Linked DNA regions of Homo sapiens: region 1 is linked to region 2. A link means that fine-mapping ties the variant in region 2 to the plasma level of a protein whose gene starts in the linked region. Region 2 holds a variant in brackets. A gene starts in the other region. All regions are shown on their reverse strands.

Region 1 (11,916 bases), not on the chromosome of region 2:
TTTGCCTCCAGCAAGCCAAAACCCTGGGCAGACTCAATCCAAAAATAAACAATCAAAGAGCATGTTGGCCTGGTCCTTTGCTAGGTACTGTAGAGCAGGTGAGAGAGTGAGGGGGAAGGACTCCAAATTAGACCAGTTCTTAGCCATGAAGCAGAGACTCTGAAGCCAGACTACCTGGGTCCCAATCTTGGGCTTGGTATTTCCTCGCTGTGTGACTCTGGGTAAGTTACTTAACTTCTCTGTGCCTCAGTTCTCTCAAGTGTAAAGTGACGCTTGTAAAAGTGTCTCCTGCAAAAGAAAGGGCTGCTGGGAGGAGGGGTGTCCCTGGTGTGCACTAAGTACAATATGAGTTTGTGGCTTTTATATTCCTGCCTCTGAGGCACTCACAGGGTAGAAATGGGGAGAAGCCAGTCCAGACAGGTGCACCCCAAAGCAAGAGAGATGAGAAGGCTGCACCCATGCTGGAGCCAGAGTGGGGAAGAGGGCACATCTGCTGGGAATGGGTAGAGCGGGGTGGGAGGAGTCCTGGCAGGGGAGCCGTTCCTATGCAATGGGCCTTGAAGGAAGGGGAGGATGGGTGGATGTGGGGTTAGGTGACTGTGGAGGCGGGGCTGGTCTCTGTCCAGGTGACAGGTGGATGGTGGAGCTGGAGGAGCCACTCGGAGCCTCCAAGGCTGGGGAGGGTGGAGGGGGGAGGCAGGTCGGTGTCCCAGGCCACACCTGTTGACTAAGGGATTAGGATGTTGTGTCCCTGCCAGCCCTCCTCCAATAAGCCCCTCTGGGCCTGCAGGGAGAGGAGGAGCCTTGCCATGTAAACTGTATTTTTAGTTCCCTGTGCCTCTCCCCGGCTGCTATAAGACACCTCTCCCCACCCCCAGCCCTGGCCGCTTGGCTGGAGGCTCTGCGAGGACAGCTGGGGAGAAGGGGAGCTGTGGTCAGTATGATGGATGCTGAGGGGCTGGAGAGGAGCAGCCCTGGTGGGTGGGTTCCTGGGAGTCTGGAGCAAGCTTGGGGGTTCTGCTGCCCCATCAAGGGCCTTGAGCAGGTCCTGCAACTCCCAGGCCTCAGCCCTGCTCTGAGCCCTGGCCTGGCGCTGGTCCAGGAGGGTAGACTCTGCCAGGGAGGCACAAGCTAAGCTGGGGGTGGGGTGGGAGGGCCTGCTGGCAGGAGGGAGGCACTGCCCAGACTGGCCTCCAAAGGCTGGTTCCCAGAAGGAGGAGGAAGAGAGTAGTGAAGATCGTGGGGAGTCCTGGCTTTGAGGAGCCAGAGTTCTCCTTCTTGCCACATCTTTGATCTCCCTTGGTGGTGTCTTAAGCCCAGATTTACCAAAGGGAATTGTCAGCTGTCCAAGGGCTAGCAAATTCCTAGGTCACCTAGATTGGATTTTCTGACCATAAAAACTGTGGGCCAGGTGCACAGCTGCCTGAGGGGCTCAAACCTGTGCAGGTGGGTGCTGGAATCCCCTTTGCTATAGCGTTCTCTTTGTGTGCATGTGACCAGAGGTGAGAGTGGCTGGAGACCGAAGATGGCAGAGCCCGTCTTTCTCCACCAGACTGAGGCCCCCGACTTGCCTTGCCTGGGGAGGGTGCTCAGTGGAAGTCCTGGGATGTTCAGTCTGGACAAGAAAAGTCTTGGGTGAGCCTGCTCCTTCTCTTGTGAGGCAGACTCAGCTGGGCCTCTATATCCCCAAGGAGCAGGCGGAGCTGCCGCAAGGAAGTGCACGTGACATGGAGGCATCTTTTGGTTCGACATAAAAAAGGATTTTTAAAGCTTTAGGTAGTGAGCTCACCACTCCCAGGAGTATTCAAGCAGATGCCAGATGATGATCTGTAGGGAAAACTATGTTTAGTGGGAAATTGGACAAAATACCGTTGAAGGCCTCTTTTAGTCACAAGATACTATGGCCCTATAATTCTAGATTTCTCTGCTTCTAGCTCTCTATAAGTCTGGAATCTAGAACCCAAGTTTCTCCGGTGCTGAAAAGTTGAAGACTTTGACACTCTAGAATTTTAATTCTGGGATCTCAAGATTCCAGAATTGGGAGCCTTGAGGATGATTCTACAAGTCTCAGTTTTGGATTCAAAGGATCCTGTGATATGAAAGGGAAAAAGAGGAGGTCTGACTTGGTGGGATCCAGTTTTGCCCCACTGGGTATCAGACTAATGTGCCCTGCATTCGTGCGTGTGTGTGCGTGTGTGTAGCATGAGCGTGTAAGGCTGTAGAAAGTTTTGCACACAAAGGCAGCCTGGCTTTCCTATCATGTGTCTGCAGCTTCTCTGCCCTGGCCATAATGAAGGCTGTCACAGGGATAATAATAGCCCCCAAACAGAGCTGGTGACTCCAGGTAGCCATAGCAACTGTGAGGTAACGCTGCTCTGTTGTAGAGATGTGTGAGTACAAACAGATGTCGGTGCCTTCCCATTAGCTTAAATGGTAAAACTTAAAAGGTCCATCAACTTCAAAGCTACAGGTTTCCATGAGCATGCCAGTTAATGGGGGCGCTTGCCAAGCGGGTGATAGCTTCATATTAAACATTTCAGCATCAGTAATGGGTTGATGAGATTTTAAATGCTCAGGCCATCCCCAGACAACTCAGGAGGCCAGAGACGGGAGAAGAGCTGGGATTCGGGTAGTAATCAGCCCTGCCCTGCCCCGCACCCTCAGGGGTGTTCTGACACTCTCGGGAGGGCACAGGCCAGAGAGCATTTGAAAACCGCACATTGCGTCTCAATCTCCAGGAGTCTCAGATCTGCCTCTTGGCCTTCCCCAGCGCACCAGGCAGGGGGCCCCAGGTCAGATGTGGCACAGCTCAATGCCATCTCCTTCTTTCTGCCCTCCTCTCTCACACCCTGGACTCACCTCCAGCGAGTGACCAGCAGTAAGGGTCAAACTGCTGAGAGTCTGAGACCGGGGCAGACCCTCTCAGAGTTGTCTTTCCTTCTGAGGCTGGGCCTGGCACAGACTGGGGCCTCAGTAATGGGCTTTCAAATGAATGAATGAACAAAGGAACAAACAGATGACTGACTGACTGAATGAATGAATGAGATCCCCTTTGGCATCCCCATGGCTTCTTTTTTTCTTTTTGAGATGGAGGCTCGCTCTGTTGCCAGGCTGGAGTACAGCGATCTCGGCTCACTGCAACCTCTGCCTCCCGGGTTCAAGTGATTCTCCTGCCTCAGCCTCCCAAGTAGCTGGGACTACAGGTTCGTGCCACCATGCCCAGCTAATTTTTGTATTTTTAGTAGAGACAGGGCTTGAACATGTTAGCCAGGATAGTCTCGATCTCTTGACCTTGTGATCCACCCACCTCAGCCTCCCAAATTGCTGGGATTACAGGCGTGAGCCACCACGCCCGGCCCCCCATGGCATTTTAGCTACTTATTTTGTTACTGCTTCTTCCACTGCTAAAGAGATGGGCCTTTGGAGGTCGGCTGGCCTAGCATTTGGGGTTGACTTCTGGAATGGTCACTAGGGAAGGGGCGCCAGAGGTGCAGCCGGTGCCTCTGACCCTTTTGGTCGCTAGGAGTCAGCCGACTCAGTACACAGGACTCACTGAATGGAGACACAAGGCTCCTCCAGGGAGTGGCGGCTCATGGCAATCCTAGAATGGTCACCAGCCAGGCTTTAGAGACCCACACAGAGGGCGTTCTGACCCAAAGTTGCACTGGGGAACTCCAAGTTTGGGGATTCTTTGAATTTAACTCTTTTTCTAGCTACATTTCCTATTATTTGTCCAATTCTTACCAAACATCTCTGTTCACATTCTGAAGCTGGGATCTGACTGGCAGAGCTAGTAGATGCTGACTATTCAGATGGAGCCCTGACATTGGCTTTCTCAGCTTGGCTGTGACTGGCAGCAGGTTTGCGGGAGAACTGTGTGTCCCAGAACATGACTGGCTACACCTGCACCTCAGCAAGATTGGGGCAGGGCAGTTATCTTCAAAAAGCTGTGTAGGTGGGGCAGTCATTACTGACAAATCCAGTGCAGACCCAGGATGGCCCAAACACTGGCTTATCCTTTCTGAATCTCATCTCCCACAGCTGTAAAGCGGGGTGGTGCTCGCTACCTCACAGAGGTGTTGTAAAGATTAGATGTAATCTTGCCAAGCAGCCACTTTGTAAACTGTATAGTCTTATGCAGATGGAAGGAAGGGCCTGTGCCTACCTTGATCATAGCACTAAACAAACTGTACTGTATTTTCATTCCTCTTAGTTATCTCCCTAAAAAGACTCTGAGTTCCTTGAACACAGGAAGGTGTTTTATTTGATTTTGTTATCCTCAGCATGTAGCAGTGTCTGACACACAGTAGGTGCTCTATCACTGTGAGAGGGATGGATGGATGGGTGGAGTTACAGATGGATAGAAGGATAGATGGAGGGATGGGTGGATGATGGATGGATAGATGGATGGAGGGGGGATGATGAATGGAGGGATAATGAGTGGATGAATGAGGGAATGGGTGGATGGATGGATGGAGGGATGGAGGAACAGATAGATAGATGGAGGGATGGGTGGGTGATGGATGGATAGATGGATGGAGGGAGGGATGATGAATGGAGGGATAATGAATGGATGAATGAGGGGATGGGTGGATGGATGAATGGAGGGATGATGGGTGGATGAATGAATTGAGGGATGGATGGATGAACACATGGATGGATGGATAGATGGATAGATGGAGGAACTGGTGGATTTTGGATGGATGGGTGGATGGATAGATGAATGAATGCCTGGATAGACAAAGAGATGATGGATAGATGAATAGATGAATTAAGGGATGTCGGATAGATGGAGGGATTGATAGATGTTGGATGGATGGGTGGTGGATGGATAGATGAGTGAATGCATGGATAGACAAAGAGATGATGGATGGATGAATTAAGGGATGACAGATGGATGGATGGATGAGTAACTGGATGGACAAGTGGATAAATGGATAGATGGTTGAATACCTGAATGGATTGAAGGAGGATGCATGGATGTAAGATAAGGCTAATCATCCTCCACTCTCTTTCTTTGCAAAACCATCCACCCATTTACTCAATAAACATTTATTCAGTTCAAACTTGGCACAAAGCACCATGTGAGGCCCAAGAGATACGTGGGTTAATAAAACAGAGCTCCTGCCCTCCTGAAAACTGCAAAGAAAGGGGCGTGGCTTCCTGAGTTCAAATCCCAACTCTGCCAGCGACTAGTTGTACATCAGTGATGTTTCCCTACTTTCTCTCAATTAAATAGGGATAATGTCAGTACCTATCACATTGGGAGGTCTTGCGGGGATTAAATGAGTTACCAAATGCCAAGTGTTTGGGACAGGGCCTGGCACCCAGCAAAGTCTCTTGTGAGTGCTGGCTGCTATTATCCTAATGGAGAAGATGGCATGAAAACCAGGAAATAGGATGCCCTTTGGGAAGCAATGCAACAGGAACTTACACAAAGAAAGGAAAGGAGGAAGCAATTAGTGGTGTCTCAAAGGAGTATGTCAAGAAAAACTTTTCAGAGGGAAACCTTTGAGCAGGGTCATGAAAACAGGAGTTCTCTAAGAGATTGTGGACTTGCCTGGGACCACCTGGCTATAAGCACAAAACCATCCGGTTCCTTTCTGTCACTTCTGGCTGGGTGAGGGGTCTCTGGCAAAGGGGCAGAAGGTGCGTGAGAGGTTGCGAATGGCCAGGACTGTCCTGGGGCCAGCCGGGGCACCTGGTGGCCAAGCTTAGAAACATGACAGGTCCTCTTGGGAGGGCTGACCGCAGGGAGCGTTGGGTTTCAGGCTGCTGGCGTCGGCTTCTGTGGTGCCCTTTCTGTCGGCTATGAGAGTCCAGACAGTGCCCAACCTCCTCCCCTTCTTTCCACACGCACAACCACCCCACCCCCTGTGGCCTGAGCTGTCCTGCCTCGCCACAATGGCACCTGCCCTAAAATAGCTTCCCATGTGAGGGCTAGAGAAAGGAAAAGATTAGACCCTCCCTGGATGAGAGAGAGAAAGTGAAGGAGGGCAGGGGAGGGGGACAGCGAGCCATTGAGCGATCTTTGTCAAGCATCCCAGAAGGTATAAAAACGCCCTTGGGACCAGGCAGCCTCAAACCCCAGCTGTTGGGGCCAGGACACCCAGTGAGCCCATACTTGCTCTTTTTGTCTTCTTCAGACTGCGCCATGGGGCTCAGCGACGGGGAATGGCAGTTGGTGCTGAACGTCTGGGGGAAGGTGGAGGCTGACATCCCAGGCCATGGGCAGGAAGTCCTCATCAGGTAAAAGGAAGAGATTCCATTGCCCCTGCCACCCACACCCTAAGATCAAGGGTGTTCAGCTGCAAGGTGGAAAGTTTGCACGTGGGGTAGGTCAGTTGGCTGCATTAGTTAAGGGTGTTAGAACGGTCACTTGCTTTTTCTTTGCTTTTAAGTGTCAGGGATTGGACTCAGGAGAGGGAAAGGAGCCATTTCAGGCTGATGTCAGCAGCTGGAGGAAGCATGAGAATCAAACCTAGGATGCTCAGAGTCCACCAGGAAGAATTTTAGAATTATAGACAGTCAGAGTTAACAAGGGTCCTGAGAGATTTTGTACAGCCACCTCTCTTACAGGATGAGGACAAAAAGGGACTGAGAAGGGGAGGACATTTCCAGAGTCACAGCTCATTAAATGCTCTTAAAGTGTCAAGGTTAAGACATGCTCTTCAAGGGGAGACAGATCTGGTTCTAGACTTGGCTCTGCCACTGAGCCACTGGGTGACCTTTGGGAAAGTACTCAACCTCTCGGAGCCTCAATTTCCTCTCCTGTACAGTGAGGGGATATCCTAATATCTATATCCTAGAGGAGATGTGAGAATTAAATAAAATAATGCATGCAAGAGGCCTGGCATGGTTCCTGGCATATACTGAGTCCTAGAAATGTTAGTAGCTATTACTGATGAAGCCCAGGCTAGGGACCTTTCAAAGCATTGCAATTAGAGAACAGAAGATAGAGGCTCATTAGTGACCTTCGATGTTGAGTATGTCTCTAGTTTGAGAGGTCTGAATGATGTGGTCTGCAAGTATATCCTGCCTTCTACCACAAGGGATTCCAGAATACACCAAAGAAAACAAAATTCTGAGGTTTGTAAATAGAGGGTGGCTGTGGTTTGTACATAGAAGCTCATCTCCTCGTTGCCTTCTATCCCAAAGGTGATACACTCTTCTCTTGGCCCCTTCCCTCACCATTCTGAGCTGGTTCCCTCAGAAGTCTAATAGGTTAAGAATCAACGTTTCTGCCAACGGGAGGAAGGAAGTGGGCGCCGGGGTTGCCACAAGTGAATGGATTGTCTTTGGCACTTTAATTTGCAGATTAATTTCTCCTTATTTGTGAGCCAGAGCCAATTTTCCTCTTCCACTCCGTCGTCCTTTGGGTCTCCCTTGGGCTTTACCCATTTCCAGCTTCCGTCTACCTCGGGAGCATGGCTGGTCCTGGAAGCTCCGTTATCTAAAATTTGAGCCGTTGGTGATCCGTGCTAGAAACACTTGAGGAAGAAGAGTTGAGTTTTCTGTTGACTGTAATGGCATCGTAGTGTGTTTATGTCTTTCTTCTCCTGTCCCTGTCATCTGGCTGCAACAGGCCCTGTTGGATTGCACAAAGTGCTCCCCCGACCAACACACACACACAAATTGACATCAACTCCTGGGCCACAGATATGCCATGTGACCTTGGACAAGTCTCTCCACCTCTGGGCCTTATTTCTCTGCTGGTTGAGCGAAGGGATTGTCTTCCATGGTCTCCGAGATCCCGTCCCACGCTCATGCCCTAGAATTCTCTGAGTCCTTGATGCACTTTTGCCTTTGGCGAGGAGGCAGGACAGTCAGGCGTGGAGGTAGGAGACCAGAGTTTGCAGAGCAGAGGTCTTTCCAAGGTGATTTGGGAGCTGCCAGACCTAAGGCAGTGACTTGTACGTCTTGAAAGAGACTCAGGGTGTTGCATCATCAGGGAGGATCACGGAGGTTTGCCGGGGGCCGGGAGCCAGGGATAAGACATAATGCCTAGGGTTGCTGGTCCCTGAAAGGTCCCAGAGGCCTGGTGCCCTGTCACGTCTTAGGTTGTGGGACATGCAGAGACTGTGCCAGCTGGTTCTGCCCTCTCAGTATTTGGGGTACAGGGAGGATGGCCTCCCTGGGGGCAGGGTGGAGGAGGCTCATGCCCAGGACTGCAAATGCCACCCGTGAGAGTTGGCATCTTGACTTTGTTCTAGATACTGACTCTGGATTTTCTAACTGACCTTGAAAGGTTATGTCTCCAATCTTCTGATTGTAAAAGAGGGCAAATTCCATGAAGCCCAGTCTGTAAAACACTGAGGCCTTCACTGCACGTACACAAACATAAAATTCTAGAACACAGAAGCTGGAAGGTCACTTGGAGATTCTGGCTCCAGGAGTGGGGCTTCGGAAGGGAGGGGGCTGCTGAGTGGGCTCCACACCCCTGTTTTTCCTTTCTTTACTCAAACCTTTTTTGTTTTATTTACTTTGGCTGTTTTGGGGAGCGGGGGGAACAAAGGATTTCAAGGTCATAAAATGTTTGAAAATCACCAGTGGTGGTCACTACTTCTCATTACAGGGAGGAACTGGGCCTGAGAGTCTCCACCGGTTAATGGCAGCCACAGGCAGGACCAAAAATTCCTGGGTGATGGTGATGATAATGATAATGATAATGATAATGGTAGAGATGATGAGGAGGAGAAAGACAGCAACCATTTATTCAGCACATACTGATTGCTGGGCTCTGTTTAAGTGTTTCACTCACTGAAGCCTGACAACAATCTTATGAGGTAGATATGATTATGATCACCACATTTAACAGAGAGGTTAAGTAACTTACGCCAAGTCACACAGCAAGTAAGAAAGGAGCTGGAATTCAAATTCAGGCAGCTTGGATCCAGAATCCTTGCTCCTTTTTTTTTTTTTTGAGATGGAGTCTTGCTGGGATTACAGGTGCATGCCACCATGCCTGGCTAATTTTTGTATTTTTAGTAGAGACTAGGTTTCGCCATGTTGGCCAGGCTGGTCTCGAACTCCTGACCTCAGGTGATCTGCCCGCCTTGGCCTCCCAAAGTGCTGGGATTACAAGCCAATGAGCCCGGCCCAGAATCCTTGCTCTTGACCACTATGCTATACTGCCCCATGACCTTGCCACACGCAAGACGGGCTGCCACCCACGCTCTGGTTCTTTTATTCTAGTAGAGCCAGAGGGGTGTTCATGGATCTGACAATGTGCTCCATGTTCCATGTGAGTGTCCAATTGGGCCTCAGTTCAGAGAACAGCAGGAAAATGGCCTCCCTTCTCTCTGACTTGGACTGAAGATCTGTCTGATGAACCAGGCCCACTGACAGCAGGGTTGAAGCTGGAAACACAGGCCAGCGGGGCTTTCTGAAATACTAGAGCAAACGCCCTCCGTCCATTTCCACAGGCTGAGGGGCTTTCATCTGTTCATTTTCCGGATCAGGCAAATCCAGGAGAATGGCCTTCTGTGGCTGCCTGGGGGGCTCCTAGCTGCAAGGCCTGGGCCCACAGGAGGCAGGCAGCTGTGTGGTGCCGGAATGATCTTGCGGGGAGACAAATTAGCCCGATTCTGCTCTGCTGTTTAAAGTAAATATGGGGTGGGGTGGGGTGGCTCAGGCCTATAATCCCAGCACTTTGGGAGGCAGGATCGGGGAATCGCTTGAGTCCAGGAGTTCGAGACCAGCCTGAGCCACATAGTGAGACCCCCCTTCTCTACAAAAAATAAACAAAATTAGCTGGGCGTGGTGGTGTGTGCCTGTAGTCCCAGCTACGCGGGAGGCTGAGGTAGGAGGATCACTTGGGCCCAGGAGATTGAGGCTCCAGTGAGCCAAGATCACACCACTGCACTCCAGCCTGGGCAACAGAGCAATACCGTGTCTCAAAAAAATATTAATAAAGTAAATATGAGCTCTCTCCCTGGCTGTCTGGTGTTGAGTGGAAAGAAAGGCATTGGCGGGTCTAGACCCTTTTGGTTTACATATGGATGAGCAATGATCCAGAGAGGCTAAGTGACTTCAACATCACAGAGCACATTGGCGCCAGAACTGGGACCGGAACTCAGCTTCCGTAACTGTCAGTCCCATGTTCTCTTCCCTAGATATCAGAGGGCAGGGGCAGGCCCCAAAATGTCTGAGACCCCCAGCTGCCTTGTGGCCCAAATTCTTGGCCCTGCTCTGCCTCAGACAGTCTGCTTTCAGCGTCCTGACCTCTGACCATCGCCTGTGCATGCCAGGTCTTGCATCTGTCAGGCGGGAGTTCAAGGATCATTGTCGCCAGATAATAATAGTCAGGAGCTCAGGGACCCTTGGATGAAAGGTGTCAGAGACAAGCCGTCAGTGACGCACGAGGATTTGGATAAGGTCCTGGAGCGAGGTGGCAATGTTGGGCACGGCGGCAGACCATGCCCAACATGGGGGAAGGGAGTGTATGTGGTTCAGGCTTGTGCGTGTCTCTGTGTGTGTGTGCAGGTGAGTATGGCGTGTGCTGGGATATATTTATGTGTACCTCTGTGTGAGTGTGCAGGCCCATATGTGAGTGTGCACACACATCTGTGAGAGCCTGCATGCATGTACACGTGTGAGGTGTTGATACATGTCCATGTAGGTATCAGTTTGCCTGTAAATATCTCTGTGTAACAATAACAAAGTCCGAATAGTCATCAAGAGTATAGACATGAAGCCAGACTGCCTGGGTTAAATCCCCAGCTAGTTAGTCTTTCGGTGCCTCTGTTTCTTCCTCTGCAAAATGGCGTCTACCCCATCAGGATTTTAAAATCAGTTAATATGGCTGGGCGCCTGTAATCCCAGCACTTTGGGAGGCTGAGGCAGGCGGATCACAAGGTCAGGAGATCGAGACCATCCTGCCTAACATGGAGAATTCTGAGAATTGCTCAAACCCAGGAGGTGGAGGTTGCGGTGAGCAGAGATTGCACCACTGCACTCCAGCCTGGGCAACAGAGCCAGATTCCATCTCAAAAAAGAAAAACAAAAAACAAAAAAACCATGAACTCATTTTCAGGTTGAGGAGCTCAGCATCCTGGTTGTGAAATACCCTCCTCATAAAACCCTGGGATGGAGACTACGGGGATCAGGTGCTTCCTTGTGACAACTTCTGGGCATGGTGGCTCAGGGCGCAAACTGGAGTGTGGCCACAATACATACTGTGTACTTTTACAAGGATGTCACAGAGCCTGGGTATCATAAAAGAGGAGCTTTTCAAGGAACTGAAACCATTAGACAGGAGAGAGAGCCCTGGGCAGACAGGGTTGCCCGTGCCAAACATTTCAGCTGTGGCACAAGGGAAAGGGTGGGAGTTATGAAACTGTTCCATTTTGGGTTTAGGTCTGGGCTCTGCCGCTAGCTAGCCAAGTGACCTTGGCCACTTATCTCTGTGGTCTTCCATGAGTAAAAGGCGGAAACTCACTCCTACCCAGAGGGCAGGTCTGACTCCCTTTAACCAGCACCCACCTGCTCACAGCAGGAAGGACTGAGGTCTAAAGCTGGAGGTGGGCAGGAAGGACTGAGGTCTAAAGCTGGAGGTGGGCAGGAAGGACCAAGGTCTAAAGTTGGAGGTGGGCAGGAAGGACCGAGGTCTAAAGCTGGAGGTGGCTGCTCAGAGTCCCAGCAGAGGCCTCTGGGGCACCTCACTGAGTGCCTGGCAGGAGTGGGTGCCTGTCTCAGGGCTGGGTTGAGTTGCTCCCACCAGGACCCTTCGTCATCTGCACAGTGAGGGGACTGGGAGGTTCAGAGAGTCACAGCTTGGGCTCAAAACAAGCAAGAGGTTTCTGAGTGTGAGGATTGCTCTGGAGTGGAATGGCCCTCACAGGTAGGAGTGAGCCTCCTGTAGCTAGAGGTATTTAAGCAGCTGAAGGACAATCCCTGGGCAGGAAGCTGCAGAGA
Region 2 (11,226 bases):
ATGAAATCTTTCTTCAATAATCAATTCAAGTGTCCCCAACTTCCTCAAGTGGCTAACTCTATCTCAAATTTACACATACATACCTCTGTTTATAACATTTAGCACAGTTTGAATTGAAGCTTTACTCAAAAATATGTATCTCCCAGAGGTCTTCTCCAGATTCCTTGAAAGCAGAGATCATGTGTCTTATTTATGTTTTATGCCCAGCATCTATCAGAGTGTCTTGCACATAGTAGGCATACTCAATAAATGATTATTGGATCAAACAGGTGTATACCTTCCTTCAACAAAGTTATTAAGCAACACCACAAACCAGTAAATTTTCTGGTTCTAGAAACTGTGAAGCTTCTTTGAAGACAAAAGAGTGAAAGAGCTTATATTCTCGGAGAGGGACAAACAAGTAAAATCTATATAGCATGTTAGATGGCAAGATATACACTAAGGTGAGAACTAAAGCAGGGAAGGGGAATATGCAGCGACAAGGAAGGTGCTGTTTGAACTACAGTGGTCAGAAAGGCCTCATTCATACGGTGACATCTAAGCCTAGACCTGAAGGCTGTGTATAGATCTGGGAAGAACAGAGAAACAGTGGGGAGGGCCGTGTGGTGACAGCAGAGTGATGAAAGGGCAAGAAGGGGAGGCAAGAGGGTAAGAGAGATAGCAGGTGGTCCAGGTCATGCAATGCTCTGTATCCAATGGTGAGGTCTGAGCATAAGAGGAAGTCTTCTAAAAGCCTTGCAGGAAGCCGGGTGCAGTGGCTCACACCTGTAATCCCAACACTCTGGAAGGCCGAGGCAGGGGGATCACCTGAGGTCAGGAGTTCGAGACCAGCCTGGCCAACATGGCAAAATAGTCTCTACTAAAAATACAAAAATTAGCCAGGTGTGGTGGGACATGCCTGTAATCCCATCTACTCGGGAGGCTGAGGCAAGAGAATCACTTGAACCCGGGAGGCGGAGGTTGCAGTGAGCTGAGATTGTGCCACTGCCCTCCAGCCTGGGTGACACAGCAAGACTCTGTCTAAAAAAAATGAATGAATGAATGAATGAATGAATGAATGAATGAATGAATAAATGGCTTGCAGGAGAGTAGTGCCAGGATTTGACCCACATTATAAAAGCATCACTCTGTTGAAAACAGGGTGTAGGGGCAAGAAAAGAAGCAGGGAGAACAGGTGGAGAACACTGAGGCAAGGGAGCACTGGGTAAGGGTGCTGACAGGTTGGGGGTGAGAAGCAGTCTGATTCGGAGCTGCTTTGAAGGTAGGAGCCAACAAGATTTGCCACTAGATTTGGATGTGGAGTGCCAGAGTGTCAAGAACAATCCTCAAGTACATGGCCTGAGCAGATGAAAGATAGATCTGCCATTAATTGAGATGGGGGAGACAGCAGGAGGAAGAGACTGGAGGGGAAGGATGGGATCTGAACACGCTGTCTTGGAGACACCCACTAGCCATGCAGGCAGAGGCACTGAGCAGGCAGCTGAGTAGATGAGTCTGGAATTCAGAAGAGAGGGCTGGGCTAGACACCCAAATTTAGGAGTCATTGATGTAAAGATGGAATTAAAGTCATGAGACCAGATGAAAGAGATCACCAAGAAACTGAGTGAATGGGTCTATGCTCTGTTTTACTCAGAATTCCTTGGCACCAAGGTGTGTTTCAGAATTCAGAATATTTCAGACTTTGGAAATAATATGATTTATTACATAACATTCCCAGCAAGATCTTGGAAGAAACATTTCTGTGGCAAAAAAAAATATGAATATTCACACTAAGTTGGGATAAAAGCTAGAAATAGCCTCCTGCTACTTTAGGTCAGGTTTTTCCACTGAATAATTTCAGGTCAAGTTAGGTCTTGCTGTCAAATATGTTATTAAAAAATATTTTAAAGAATTTTTGAATATGGGTGTTACAGAGCATGGATTTTGGACTGGTAGAAGGAAGAAATGAGAAAAGAAAAAAAAGGACAGATATCAGCCAGTGAGGCAGGGGGAACTCCCAAAGAGAGGAGTAACCCCAGAAGTCAAGAGGAAAGAAGTTTCAAGGAGAAAGGGAGGGGCTGGGTGCAGTGGCTCATGCCTATAATCCCAACATTTTGGGAGGCTGAGGTGGGAGGATCACTTGAGGCCAAGACCAGCCCAGGCAACAAAGTGAGACCTCCACGAAAATTTTAAAGTGTAGCCAGGCAAGGTGATGCGCACCTGTAGTCCCTACTACTTGGAAGGCTGAAGAAGGAAGATGGCTTGCCCCCAGCAGTTGGAGGCTGCAGTGAGCTATGATTGCACCGTAGAACTCTAGCCTGGGCAACAGACCAAGACCCTGTCTCTTTAAAAGAGAGAGAGAGAGAGAGAGAAAGAGGTCCAATCGTGTCAAATGTGTCAAAAGAATAAGGATGAGAATTGGATTTGGGACATGACACACACTGGAAACCTTGAGAGCCAGCCCAACCACAGCAGCTAGAGGAACCCAACTGAATAGGGAGCATTTCTCAAACTAAACAGACAAAAGTTGAAAAATCATGAGATTTTTAACTGAACCACGAGTTAAAATTTCTAAAAGAAACTGTGCCCCCACGTGAGATCCAGATTAAATCTATTCAATCAAAAAATATATAAATATATACAAAACACATTTATGCATATTCCAAAACCTATCAGCCTGATAGTCAAGAAGATATCCCTGGAACCTTATTTCTTTGGATACTTATTTAAAATTAAATTCTTTGGCTATAGGATTAGAGAGTCTAGGAGCTAAAAAAGGCAGGGGTGGGCGTCTCATAGCTCTCTGATGAATCAGTTTGAAGCAGCGAAATTATTCCTCTCCTTTCCTGACACCTGCTGCAGGGAGTAGCTTCAGCAACACAATGTGGGTTGGCACGGCCTGAGAGGGTATAATTAGAAAACGAAAGAGCCAAAAGTTAATTACTGTTAGATAGGGGAAAAAACACAATCTTGCTGTGAAGAAATCAGATATAGCTTAGCCCAGGAATCACATACCCTCCTTTAAGTACACAACAAATAATATAAAATCAGGCTTTAAAGTAAAACAAAACAGGAGTAGAGTCAGAAAAAAGTACTTGTTACGCAGATCTATTAGTTGCAACTCCAATGAGACAGCGACATCATGAGCTAATGGTGAATAGACTGTTATAATAACTGAAGATTGTAGATGTTGAATTATAGTTGACTTCCAAATATAATTGTATCTTTTAATATAAAACTCCAGGTAAAAAGACCATTTTTGTAACAGAATGAATACTGTGCTTCAGAGTACTGTGGGCTGGATTGAACATCAAACTAATATAGCTATGGGATGTGAGGGCGATTGGCTGCAACATCTGTTAACCCACTGATTGCCAGGGTTGATTCAGCTGATCTGGCTGGGCTAAGTGGGTGTCCCCTTCCTCCCTCACCGCTCCATGTGTGTCCCTCTCGAAGCCGCACGCTTGGTCGAAGAGGATGACCATCCACGATAGAGGAGGACCAGTCTTTGGTCAAGGGTATACAAGCAGCTGCACTCCCCTGCTAGAACTTCCAAACAAGCTCTCAAACTAATATAGCTAGGGAAATT[C/T]TGAATATACAAAAGTCTGAGGCTTATTAGTGAAGATATAGTATGTTCGAAAAGAAATAATAAATGTATAAGAAATAGCAGGTAATTTTTACTATGGCTGAATTGCTTGGTTTCAAGTTAATTTTAGCAGAAGGAGCAATCTCAATATAACCATTTATATACCTTAACTATGATGATTAATTATAACTAATTTTAACTGCTAAGAATAACCATGTGACCATGTATACAGCTTTCTAACATCTAATGAATCTTTGAATCAGAGTTCTATGTCCATTATTCTTTTCTCTACGAGCTGTTCCATTATAAATGATAGCAATTACTTTTTGACGAACTGCTGCTACTCTGAACAACTTAATTATGCAGAATCTTCATGGCATTATTTCTTACAAGAGAAGAGATGTGCCCTAAACTAGCACCCTTCAGTTGCTTTAAATAACTACAAGGGATCAAAGAAAGGAACAATTAGCAGTAAGTTACAGGGACTAAACAGGTGAATACAGAAACATCTTAAAGTTTAAAGAAGAGTTATGTCAATCAACAGAGTCAATGGAAACTTTTCAGAAACTTCTTTGCTCTTGCTTTTGTAAATCTTAATTGGCACTTAGTCCACTGCTTTGCACAAAAGTTCTCAGCAGTCGTGAATGCCAAATATGTTTCCTGGCCATGCGCCCATGCCAGTGGAGGGTAAGATATACCCACAATTCTGAACATCTTCAGAAGGCAAATCAAAGAATGGATACTACATTTCCCACTACATATACTAACACTGGAACTGGCCTCTGAAAATCAGGTGACTGATTTTTTTTCAATTTTTCAATTTTTTTTCTTAAGACAGGGTCTCACTATCACCCACGCTGGAGTGCAGTGGCACAATCATGGCTCACTGTAGCCTCAACCTCCCCACAGGTGACCCTCCCACCTCAGCCTCCTAAGTAGCAGGGAACACAGGCACGCGACGACACACCTGGTTAACTTTTCTATTTTTGTAGAGACAGGGTTTTGCCACATTGCCCAGGCTTTTTTTTTTTTTCCCAAATTTTTAAGCCTATAGAAGGACTTCCAGGGACATGAAAGGAAAGGGAAATGATAAAGAACTTCAAATAGCATAGTCTGCCCTATCTACCTTTGAAATAAGCAACTCTTCACTCTCCTATTACTTTTCCTAAATAACCTACAGGCTCTTAAAAACAGACCTAAAATACCACTCCACCATCCCAGTGTAACCTTATCAGTCAACAGAGGGCTATGGAGAATTGCCTAATGTGTAAAGAATGCCACGGGGAGTTATGGGCCACATCCCTCGTGTTTTACAAATTATCCTCTACATAATCCAACTGTGTTCCTATTTCATTTAGTTTATATTCTTCTAGTTTTTTTCCTATGTACATAAGTACTCATTTTTAAAATACAGGTGTCATTTTTAAAAATAACACTTTATATGCATCAGTGAACATTCCTACACACATTCCTGATTTTATGCATAGAACAAATTCTTTGACATAAATTTTGGGGCCAAAAAGTTTGTGAATTTTTAAATTTCTTAATACATACTACCAAATCTGCCTTTCAAAAATGTTTTATCAATTAATATTTCTACCAACAGAATATGAAAGTGTTTTTTCCCAATCCTTAAATTAACCTCTGGGTATAGGTTTTAATAACTGCCAACATTTAAATAGGTGAAATTAGAATTTTATTCTTATTTGTGTTTTGTAAACTGCCTGATAATGACAGTTTCCCACTTTTCTACTGTGAAGGAATGTTCAATTTTTTTCCTTTTAACTGTAAGAGTTTTGAAAATATACCATAGATATTATGCATTTGCCATAAATATGTTCCTATTTCCAAAAATATGAGTGCCAAGCGCAGAATAATATGGGAACTTAGCTCAATACACAATGCCACACACAAAATATTATATTAAATCACTTAAGTAAAAAGACTTTGTAATCAAACATAGGAAACTACTTATGTGACTCATATATTTGTATTACTATAATAATAAGAAAAATAATTGCCTCATTGTTCATTGGAAAATCGCTATCATTGTGATCTATATGTAAAAATTCCAATACACAAATCACATTCTGAAAAGTTTATATCTACTGTTTAGGCCTTTCCAGGCTCTCCATATAAGCAGAAAAAACCACTGCTACTGGTTGTCAGTTTCTTCTTTTAGAGAACAAAGAAGTGTTTTAAACTAGAGGCTTCTGAGTCTTCTTCTAGTTCTAACATTTTCAAAGTCTATGAGAGGGCTTCATGCTAATAAGGCTAATATGCTGAAAGGGCCTTACCAATATTAAGTTTCAAAGGCAAGAAATAGCCTAAGCTATGAGCCACAGTTCATATTACATGAAATGGTTGAGAAGCTCAAAATACCGAAATGACAGATAGTACTTTGGTTAACAGAGAAATGGTTTTATCCTGAGATTGCTGCTAATACAGAACTCCATTGTATTAATATATACAATAGTTAAGATGTGACACTGGAAACCTCTGATATGACTTTTGGCAATTAAAAGATGCAAGAGATTAGAACAAGCAAGCTGAACACAAGTGCAAGCTTACCTGGAATATTACCACGCGGAATTTGTTTTTCTTCATTATTTCCTCTTGCTTGACTTCAACTTTTTTAACATGAATTTGTTGCTTCTCCACCCGGGCTTTCACATCTTTAATGTGAGCACTAACTTTTCGGGTTTTCTCAAACAATTTGTTAATGATATGCCCTGTATTGCTATGCGACTGTGAAAGCTTCAACAGGTCAATCTGGACGGATTTTATGGCATTTTCCATTTCCCTGTGTCTCTCTTCTATTCTCTTCTGGCTTGCCTGCACACTGTCCACGATGGAGGCTACTTTGTCCAGCACAGTCACAATGGTAAGAGCAGCGTCTTGGTCTTCATCTTCTGTAACACTCGACAGGCGATTCTGGTGGATTTTATCAGCATTTGAAGCAGACCCATTATGTTCCATTTTATTTATTTCTCAGCGTAAGATGTCCTAACCACAATCAATTCTGGCACTTGGAGCAAAAAGTCAGCTTGATAACAGGCAACAGGGTTGTTTAAAGAGTTGGAAACCCCACCCCTAGAGAACGGTCAAGTATTTATAACTACAAATACCCATATGTGACTGTTCTGCAATCTGAACCCTTGCAAAGCACCGGGGACTGTTCCAAACATGCTTGCTGACTGACTAAGGGACTCAAATAAGACTGTGTGGGTAGAAGAGTAAAGCTTTTTAAAAAAGTTCACTAAAGCCACCATGTAACTAATATTAAACCTAGAAGCCAAATGATCAAAAAAGCAAACTCCAAATGTTGGGTAAAGCTTTTGCCTTTAGATAATTTCAATCAGTATTTGTAACAGTAAAGGGGAATTCTGAACCGAAATCTGCTTTTTCTACTAATTTCACATATTAAATATACTGAAACACCAATATCAAAAAATTTGGTAAATAAACACACCAAAACAGAGGCCATATAGTGAAAACATTATATTATAACATGCTTTTCCAAACAAAATATTAAAATTAATAATTTTTAACATATTCTTTAAATTCTACATGCATACTTTTGAATATCTAAACTACATGTTAAACAGCTGAATACATTCTACTCACACTTCAGATCTTTAAACACCAACAATCTATGAATATTAATCTATTACTACAGGACAAATTTGGATATACGTCTTGGATAAATTTTAAGCTCACTTTAAGAGCACCAATCATTAACAATCATTTTTGTATTTTATTCACAAACACTGATACGATTTGTTTATTTATGTTAAAACAAACATTTTCTTTAAAAATGAATGTGTATTAAAGTAGTTTAACTGGTAGAATAGGCTTTATTCCAATCTGTTTGTTAAACAGCCTATTTTCACAATATCTATATCTACTTTTCATTGATCTGTTCCATCATTACTAACATATTTGTTCAAATTATTAGGACTATTTTTTCAAAGGGAGGAATAATCAAATTCCCCAGTCCATATATCTTATAAATATTTTACACCTAATACACACAGCTTTACAGTTCATGCGATAGGCAGTGTCTAAAAAATCAGTTACTAAATCTCAAAAACATTTAAATATCTATTTAAACACAGTGTCTTCTAGATTTTTTTTGTAAGAAAAGTAATCTGTAAACATCTTTACCTTTAGTTCATGCTTGGTCATTTGCTGTGGTCATTGTGGAAGAAGTGGATATGACTTTATAACCATTTGTGAAGTAGTCCATCTTTGCAAAAATATTACATTCCATGGGTAAAGAACAAGTCTTAGAATTACCATGTGGTACAAATTTGTGAAAGCAATTTCTGTATTTAAAAACATAAAACAAAGACTACTAAACAGTCCAAAACTGTCGTAGCTGAATATTCTAAATACGAGCCAACAGTACTACACTAAAAATGTCCAAAAATAAGGCCTCTGAAATAAATATTTCCATTCTTTAAAAAAAGACATAATAAATGTACATCACATGGTCAGTGTACATATAAAAGTCATCAGTTTAAACCATTCTGGATGACGTATCTGAAGTAAAATGACCTAGGTTTTGCTTCTGTCGACGTCCTCTATTGTTTTTGGGGCATTTTCTGTTGCATTAAAAAAAGAAAGAGAGAAAAATATTGTTTTGATGATTTTGTTCAGGATATTTCAAATGTTTCCAAAGTAATACACATTTTGCACATAAAGCCACATTGCAAGCAATTACATGAAAGGGAAATGAGATGGTATCTGTTGCAAGACAAGATGAAGATGAACACAATTCAGACTGCTACCTCCTCTACAAACCTGGAAGTTGAGAGGATTAGATATGTAATATAGGTACTGGCACAAGCAAAACTCATTACCAGTGTCTATGCTACTATGTATGCATCCCTGACAGATATCCCACCCTTCCTCCAGCCTAGAAACTCCCTAGTCACAGTGACTGATAACATGAAACCCCTGACAGGAGAAAGGACTCTGGCCTATGTACTTTCCCTGTGCATTATGAGAAGACAGCTCTAAAATGACAAGAAGAGCTTAGATGAAGGGAGAAATCAGGAAGAAGTGTGCTTATTAACCTCAGCTATGAATACATAGGAATGTCTACTGATTTTAGACAATGACTCAAAAGAAGCTGTCCACACCCTCCTGGGGCAAACCACAGAAGCCCATAAGGAACTGCCACACTGAGGATAAGGGACATTCTTTAACTCTGCTCTCATTTTACCACGTTTCTCAACAGCAGTACAAATCTCACTGGGTTGGAACTGCTCTTGTGCCTGCACACTAGATTGCAAACACAAGATGCTGTGCTATGCAATGTGGAGTAAGGGGGCTAAGACGAATTCTGGGCTCTGCTAATAACTAACTGTGCAACCTCAATTCTCCTATATGTAAAAAATAAATTAGGAGTTGGACTAGCTTCCAAAATCTCTGCCAGCAAGAAATTTACAACCTAATGGAAAGAAAGTCTTATAACAATGAGTACTCCTCATTTCGTTCGATTTCAAAGAGTACAGCTTTGCCTTGACTAAAAGTGTTGACAATACTTCCATTTTGTATATGGTTTTACCTCACTAATCCTCATTTTAAAAGTGTGAGGTAGACAGAGTTGGAATCATCTCCATTTCATAAATGAGAAAACTAGCTGACAGATCAAGCAACCCTCTTGTACTGTCACTAACTCACCATGACCTTGGAAAAATTCCAATTTCCTAGTGCCATGGTTTTTAAATCCATAAAATCAGGGCGTTTAGTTAAGGTGATGTTCAAGGTTCCTGACAATCTGTCATTCTATGAGTCTGAAAATATGAAAGGCGATTCCAAGAAGAAGAAAAAAAGAAAAATTGACTCATGCAGTCTTGATAAACAGGTCAGTGGGAACATCCTTTTAAAGAAGATTCCTCCCATGTGACAGCCGCCACGGTATATGTCAACAGCTGTCTCATAATGGACTGTGTGGGAGAGATACTTAAAAACTCAATGGAAATAAATCCAAGTACATAAATGTTCTAAATCCAAGATAGCAAGACATTCTAGGGGAGGAAATACCATAATAAAAAGACAGGCCTCCAGGAGAAATCTGTGATAAATTCAATGAGATGACTCTTCAATCGTAGAGACAGTGGGCAGTAAAGACACTGTGACATAGTTAGAAATACACTGTGATGTCTAAGTGGCTGTGAGGGCAACAAGGAGGGATCTGGAGTATAAACTAGAGGGTACCTACTTCAAAACTGCCTGCCAGGTAATTTTAATTGAGTAGTTGAGCATTATAGCACTGAAAGAGTTGGGTAAAAGACTGTTGTAAGGGGGCTTTCCTAGCTCTAGGACCTTAGACCAAGGTACTTCTTATCTCAGGGCTTCAGTTTCCCAACTTCTCTAAATGAAGGGGTTGAACTCAGAATTGTTTCTCATTGACTCTGACATCCTTTGATCCTCTTAAAAATGGCACTATCTGGCTGGGCACAATCCCAGCACTTTGCGAGACCGAGGCAGGTGGATCACTTGAGCCTAGGAGTTGAAGACCAGCCTCGGCAACATGGCCAAACCCAGTCTCTACAAAAAAAAAAATACAAAAATTAGCAAGGCATGGTGGCGCATGCCTGTAGTCTCAGCTACTCGGGAGGTTGAGATAAGCCCAGGAGGTGGAGGTTGCAATGATCCAAGATCATGCCACTGCACTCCAGCCTGAATGACAGAGTGAGACCCTGTCTCAAATAAAGGCACTATCTCCAGGCCTCAAACATCTCCCCTTACTTTACCTTAATTTTCCTTCTGCCTTCCAAATCATTCATTACCTCACTCCTATTTAACTCTAATAATGACTTAAATGGTCTTCCCCCTACCTCATATGTTCACTACTCCAATGAATTTTTCAGATGACTCATTAATACTCTGAAAAATATGGTTTATACCAAGTCCTTCCCCTGCTCAAAAACCCTAAACTGCTACAAAATCAAGTTTGAACCCTGCTCCCATGCAATGGTCATACTGGGCAAACATGTTTCCCAAGATGACTCAACATGGAACCTTTCAGTGTAAAGAATGAATGGGAATCAAACTGAATCCAAATCCAGACAATTCCACTTACTAGTCGGATGACCACAGACAAATTACTTAACCTCTGAGTCTATATTAAATGGCTACAGCCAGTCATGCTGTTAAATGTGTTTTCCCTATCTTCTCTTTCTGTTATCATTATTTGTTACATGATTATGTCCCTACTTTGATCTACCGTCCAATTTTATATTCAGTAGTCTTGCCTAAGGGCAGATCATCTGTTCTGTGAAATAAAGCGCACTGACTTTCATGCCTAGGTGTTATGAAAAATATCTGTTACTTGGAGAACCTTTTCTTTTTTATCATTTCTAGATTTATCATCTCAGCTCCAGATGGCTGAGACTACTGAAGGTCTGGCTTCTATCCAGACCTTGGATAGAAGGGCCACAAATCCATTATGGCCTGCCAATATCTGTATTTGATATGCTTCAACCCTCTGCCCAGAATAATGCAGGGAAGTGGAGAAATGATGCTTATGAGACTTCTGAACTGAAGCTTAAAGAAAGAGGTAAGCAGGAAGAAAAGCATTAGACTGGGAAGCACAAAGACAACACGAACTTGCTGGATTTACTCTGACTTTTCTCAGGCCCAGTTCA

Which allele goes with the higher level. Positions count from the first base shown, and alleles are read on the strand shown. Strength reflects both the effect of a copy and how common the allele is.
For the plasma level of the protein whose gene starts at base 6,083 in region 1, allele T in region 2 goes with a higher level than allele C (weak association).

What was found. A credible set is the group of variants that fine-mapping cannot tell apart. PIP is the chance, under the fine-mapping model, that this variant and not a neighbour inherited with it causes the effect. Protein levels are from antibody-based Olink assays in UK Biobank. Linkage for the fine-mapping came from a reference panel and not from the study's own genotypes, which makes the PIPs less certain.
Region 1: it holds the start of MB, and the variant in region 2 is the best candidate, but not a certain one, in a credible set for the plasma level of the MB protein (UK Biobank, PIP 0.59).

The regions. Positions count from the first base shown.
Region 1 is chr22:35,611,496-35,623,411 of GRCh38, reverse strand. It overlaps MB (myoglobin), which reads left to right and starts at 6,083. Exons shown (of 3, transcript NM_005368.3): 1 at 6,083-6,249. The coding sequence starts at 6,155. RefSeq lists enhancers at 1-170, 829-1,344 and a silencer at 11,323-11,372.
Region 2 is chr9:100,573,462-100,584,687 of GRCh38, reverse strand. It overlaps MSANTD3-TMEFF1 (MSANTD3-TMEFF1 readthrough), which reads right to left. Exons shown (of 10, transcript NM_001198812.1): 10 at 7,052-8,172. The coding sequence ends at 8,088. TMEFF1 (transmembrane protein with EGF like and two follistatin like domains 1) reads right to left here. Exons shown (of 10, transcript NM_003692.5): 10 at 7,052-8,172. The coding sequence ends at 8,088. It overlaps CAVIN4 (caveolae associated protein 4), which reads right to left and starts at 6,609. Exons shown (of 2, transcript NM_001018116.2): 1 at 6,137-6,609. The coding sequence starts at 6,544. It also overlaps the pseudogene RN7SKP87. The variant C/T (reference allele first, on the strand shown) is at 3,569.